2 separate regions of the Homo sapiens genome follow, and region 1 is linked to region 2. Evidence: fine-mapped expression QTL. A gene starts in region 2. The other region holds a variant in brackets. All regions are shown on one strand. Distances are from middle to middle. Region 1 has its middle 74 kb from the start of SLC15A4. Region 2 holds the start of TMEM132C (transmembrane protein 132C).

What was found. PIP is the estimated chance that this variant, and not a neighbour inherited with it, causes the effect. A credible set is the group of variants that fine-mapping cannot tell apart.
Region 1: its variant is the best candidate, but not a certain one, in a credible set for the expression of TMEM132C in whole blood (TOPMed, PIP 0.83).

Annotation. Positions count from the first base shown.
Region 1 is chr12:128,748,181-128,751,085 of GRCh38, forward strand. No RefSeq gene overlaps it. Among named protein-coding and RNA genes, the nearest start is that of SLC15A4, 74 kb to the right of the region's middle. The variant A/G (reference allele first, on the strand shown) is at 1,326.
Region 2 is chr12:128,265,673-128,268,577 of GRCh38, forward strand. TMEM132C (transmembrane protein 132C) reads left to right here and starts at 1,498. Exons shown (of 9, transcript NM_001136103.3): 1 at 1,498-1,815. The coding sequence starts at 1,731. LOC107987176 (a long non-coding RNA gene) reads right to left here and starts at 1,360. Exons shown (of 2, transcript XR_001749176.1): 1 at 899-1,360. RefSeq lists enhancers at 644-1,165, 1,701-2,539.

The sequences.
Region 1 (2,905 bases), 480 kb after region 2:
GGACACTTAGCTGGTTTCAGGACGCAGAAGGGACCATGAGCCCAGGAACGCCGGCAGCCTCTCAAAGCTGGAAAAGACAAGAAAAGAGCTCCTGCCCAGAGCCTCCTGAAGAAACGCAGCCCCACAGACACCTTGAGGATGAGCAGCCCCTTGAGATGCATTCTGACTCCTGACCTGCAGAACTGTGAAATGATAAGTGTGTGTCATCTTCAGCCACTTCAGTTGGTGGTATCTGTTACATCAGCAATGGGAAACTAAGACATCCCCTAAATGTAAAAAGGCTATTCGAAAGATAATGTATAAAAACTAGAAAGCACAGGCTGGGTGTGGTGGCTCACGCCTGTAATCCCAGCACTTTGGGAGGCCGAGGCGGGCAGATCATGAGCTCAGGAGTTTGAGACCAGTCGGGCCAATACGGTGAAACTCCATCTCTACTAAAATTACAAAAATTAGCTGGGCATGGTGGCGGGCGCCTGTAGTCCCAGCTACTCGGCAGGCTGAGGCAGAAGAATCGCTTGAACCCGGGAGGCGGAGGTTGCAGTGAGCCGAGATCATGCCACTGCACTCCAGCCTGGGGGACAGAGTGAGACTCTGTCTCAACAAAAAACAAAACAGAACAAAAACAAAAACTAGAAAGTGCAAGCCGTGCAGGGCCTGTGAAGTGGGCAGGACAGTGGCATCATTCTGGAAGATGCCCTTGCCTTGCTCTGGAGGGAAACAGAGGCACAGACCCAGGTGAGGGGGACCCAGTTCCTCCAGGCTCAGTTGGGGCTCTCTGCTCCTCTCCACTGCTGGATCTTCCACTTTGTAGGCACATCTGGGACCTCAACATGATTAAAATCAGTCTCTCTCCACCACAGCCCTCTCCCCTGAACCCCTCCGCCCTCCCATGTTTCTCTCCAGCCTTTCCTCCAAGCCAACTGGGAACTCGCCTGGAAAAAATAGAACTCTCTGTAGATGGAAGAGGATGGAAGTGAAAGAAAAAAAAAAGTTCTTTATTTGGAGCCATGCAGTGAAAGCAATTATTTGATATTTCTGGAGTACATTTTGCCTTTGCTTTATGAAATAGAGAAAATGGTTTTTAAAAATGCAAAATATGGTTACTATATGGCTATGAGACACATGTTTTTAATAAGATCGGGGTGAGGACAGGTGACTGTTTTCAGGTATGTGAATAGTTGCTGCAAATACATCATAAAGACGGTGCCTGGAAGGTGAGCTGTAATTACAGATCCTAGAATGTCATGTGATGATTTTTTACCGAGAACACACATTCCCCAGGTCCCAGGTTACTGACACATAAGTCTACTGTTTGGCTTTTGACC[A/G]TATTTTCAGTAATTAGGTAGGAGGATGCAGGACTGCCTGGGATGAAATGATGGAAAGTTCTGGAGTCCAGTGGGTGTATGTTTCCATCAAGCTCCACAACTCTCTGGTTATTTTAAGAGTGCTAGAGTTTGGGTTGTAAGTAACATGAATTGGAATTATGTGAATACAAAAAGAAAGTTGAGAGGATCAATTATCAGCAAAACTTTTTAAAATATAATCCCTTAAAGTCAAAAATGTATCAGGAGTCACATAAATTTAAAGCTGTCAAATAAAGTCCATTGAGACCTGCCTGCTGTCTACTGACACATTTTGGTACCGTATTTTACCAGGTGGACAAAATTAGCCCCCAACAGTTGTCAGGAAAGTCTTGAATTAAATGTTGAAGTACACCCAGGTATTGGAAATGCATGTTTCCCCAAAGAGTAATTATGTTCAATTCTAACACAAATTCTTAAATACAGAAATTCTAGTGGCTGTTAAACATTTGACAAGATTTTCAATTGCGCTAAGGATGGGAGGGAAAAAATTATGACAAATAATTTGGGGCTTCTAGGGTTACCAAAGATTAAAACATGGCCAGGCGTGGTGGTTCATGCCTGTAATCCCAGCACATTAGGAGGCTGAAGCAGGAAGATGTCTTGAGGCGAGGAGTTCAAGACCAGCCTGGGCAACATAGTGAGACACCATCTCCACTTATATAAATATAAAAAATTAAAATGTAAAACATGATAATATTCCAGGCATATGCTGGACACTGTGGTCCTGTGAATGGATGTGACCAGTTTGGAGGGCAATTTAGAAATAGCCCCAAATGTCAAAGGAAAACCTCAGCTCGCAATTCTACTCTAACAATATGAAATGGTATTTGAACACATGTAGTCTTCCCAACCAGGGGTGCTCACGTGAATCACGGAACATAGAAAGTGGCTTGAGAGACTATTTTATCAATTCTCTCGAGGGTGGTTACATAACTAACACCTTTCTAGACCCCTGGGAGAAAAGTTCATTCCTTACATACAATGGATGGCTCAGGGCAAGAGAGTGTAATTCTCTTGGGAACACTGGTTGAGAAAACTGTAGATGTCTAGGAATTCATTGTCACCTTGTTTGTGATGCTGAAAAATGGGAAATGACTGATGTAAATGCTTAGCCAAAGGGATAAAGACAGAATGCTACATTCATATAATGGATTAGGAAGCAGCTGGTGACTATGTGAGTATATATGGATATATACTGATCCATTAATACTTCCATGATAAGTCGATAAATTTAAAAGAAAGTTATACCCACTAATATGACTTTATTTGAAAAGACATATCAGCGGGGTGGCTCTCACCTGTAATCCCAGCACTTTTGGATGCCAAGGCAAGAGGATCGCTTGAGCCCAGGAGTTTGAGACCAGCCTGGGCAAGATGGTAAGACCATCTCTATAATTAATAAATTAATTAAAAGATCCCAGCAAGTGTTGGTGAGAATCTGGAGAAATTGGGATGCTCACGCACAGCTTAATGGAAACGTAACATGCAGTTTGTTGCTGCTGTGGAAAACAGCCCAGCGGTTCCTCAAAAGTTTTCCATAT
Region 2 (2,905 bases):
TAGTTTTCAAGCTGCCTTCTCCTCACATCATGTGAGTAGAGCCGGCCAAGAAAACCAGGGAGACATCTCCCCCCAGCCTGGCCCAGACTTCCGGGCCCCACCCCAGGAGAGAGCCTCCCACTCTGGCCAGTGCCCTGCAAAGCCTTCGCCCCACCCCGCCCCAATTTCTCCTTATGCCTGGCTCATTCCTTAGGGGCTGAGTTGGGAGATAAGACTTGGGGTTGCAGTTGCTGGGGATCATTCGTTTACATTTCTTTTCTTTCAATCAAGGACTTCTTTTTTTCTTTTGAAATTCTTTCCTGCACTGATGGTGAGAAAAGACCCCTCAGGCTTCCTTTTGATGTTGGACCGAGCCAGCCCACGGTGAGAGGGGATGCTGAGCCCGTGGTGAGGAGCTCAGGACAGGAGGGGACGTCCAGAGACCTCCGAACCCATGGCCCTTCATTCCCAGTCACAAGGGGGGAGTCGGGGTCCCGCCCTCAAACTGCTCAGACCACGCGTGGCAGAAAGAGCAGAGCATGAGCATCAGGAACCGCACAGGGAAGCCGCTGAGATCACCTGGGATCACCACCATGAGGGAGGCCAGCCCTGGAGAAATCAGAGGGAAAAGATAGAGAGAACGAAGTCGGGGGGGGGGGGGGGAGGGCGGATCTTCCTTGTCTGAGTCTGCAGAGAAATTGCCTATTGCAGGAGCAAGTCTAGAGAGGGGCTATTCTCCACCCACTGAAAAGATAATAAAACACATGCTATGGGCGGCGGGGAGATGATTGGGGAGTGGAAGCCCCACAGACATGCAGTGAAAAATGATCCTTTCTTCCCCTCTGCGTTCTCGTCCCCTTCCCAGAGACACCGCTGTGATCTCGTGCCTCGCCCCCTCCGCACACGCACAGGTGCACACCCGCATCTGTCTTGAGCCCGCACCCCGCCTTCACGCTCCGCTGCGCGCTGCTTTTCCGCGCTCAGTGATCCAGTTAGGAGCTCTCCCCGCAGCAGCTGCGCGGGACTTTGCATTCCAGATGTCCCCAGCCCTCCAGGCTAAAGCAGCGGCCACCTGAAGTTGAGGAATGGGGCGTGACGACCACCAGGTCCCGCAGTGACCACGGGAGGGTGGGGAGAAGGAGTCCAGCTCCGCCTTGAGCGTCGGGTCCCTGGGCAGGACCCTCCGGGCCACGGGCCGCTGTCCGTTGGGCACCCGGGCAGGAGTCTGCGAACGCTGAGTTTCTCTGGAAAGGCGCGGACCCCCGGAGGAGCCGTCCCAGCCGCCTGGGGAGACGCCCCCTCCTCTCCCGGTCTTCTTTCCCGGGCACACCCTCCCTAGCCCGGGCGGGGGGGTTCTCCATCTGCCGCCCCTCCCGGCGGGCAGGCGAACTCTCTCCTACCGCACCCTCAATCTGTCCGCGGTCGCGGGGCTCGGCGGGGGCGGGGCCCGGGCGGGGGCGGGGGCGGGGCCGGGGGCGGGGCGGGCCGGCGGCTGCGGAGGCTGCGGAGGCTGCGGGAGAAAAGTTGTCCCGGCCGGAGCGCGAGCAGCGGCGGAGCCGGAGCCGCCAGAGCCAGAGCCGGAGCTGCGGCGGCGTGGACCCGGCAGGGGCGGGCCTCGGACAGCAGAGACGCAGCGGGCCCGGCCGACCGGGCTGCGGGAGTGGCCCCGGGCATGGGGCGGCCGGCGGGGGCCGCGGGCGGGCGCTGCGCTTCGGGCTGGCGGCGGGCTGCGTGAGCGGCCGGGACGCAGGATGCGCTCCGAGGGTGCGGCCCCCGGGCCGGCGGCGCCGCTGTGCGGGGCGCTGAGCCTGCTGCTGGGCGCGCTGCTGGGCAAAGGTAAGGCCGGGGCGGGTGCCTGGCGCGCCGACGCATGCGAACTTCCCGGTTCCGGGGGAGCTCGGGGTGAGGGCAGCCGAAGCGAGGGGTGCGGCGGGGGCCTCGGCGGGGGCTCGGATCCCATCAACAGCGCCTCTGCGGGTGCCGAGCCGCCCCTAATCCAGAAGGGCGCTCCCAGCTGGGCGCCGGGATCCGGGCAAGTTAGGCTGGTCCCGAGTCCCGAATCTCCCACCCCGGACCCCCCAGACCCAGAGCTGCCCCGCGGATGAGGAGGGGGCGTGGCTGAGGGACACGGTGTTTGTTCCCCATCCCTGAGTTCCGTGCGGACCTGCCCCAGCCCCAGCACAGTCACCCTGTGGAACTGGCATCCAGGAGAGGTGCTCCGCTCTGTGCGCTCCTTCCTCCCGGCTGTGTGCTCCCTGTCCACAGCTCCCCATCCACAGCTTCGGCACTGTGGGGCTGGTGCTCCAGGAGGGAAGGCCCGGTTCTTTGCATCCCCTTTCCGCAACCGCTAGGGTCTCTGTGCGGGCCCTAGAGGAACGCTCACTCATCGCGCAGCTCACCAGGGACCCCAGCTTGGCAGAAACCAGGGGCTCTCTGCGGGTTCTCTCAAATGAGTCCTTTGCGGTGGGGGAGCGCGGATGGGGAGGTGGGTGCGTCCCTCGCGACGGGAACTACCTCACCAGCGGTCCTGTCCGGGGCTCCTTCACCTCAGTGTCCTCTTCTCTACAATGGGAGTGACGGCCCTGCTTTGGGTTGGAGGAATTTAAAGGAGTTAACGTATGGCGCCCGCAGGGCTCACGAAAGGTAGCCGTGTGGTTTTTCCGACCTTTTTTATTATGTGCGTGTGCGGCCGAGTGGCCGCGCGGATGCGGCGGCGGGAAGGGCGGGGAGAGGCGGTCTCCAGCCCCAGGAGCCGCGGGGCAGGCGGGGAGCAAGGCCTAGGCTCTGCCAGGGCAGCAGCTGCCCGAGTCCCGGGGCGCGCCCAGGGCGTAGAAAAAGGAGAGCGTCGCTTTCCTGCTCCCCGCGCCCTGGCGAAGGTCTCGGGTTCATTTGGTTAAACGGAGGTGCGCACATGGGTGCCCTGAGC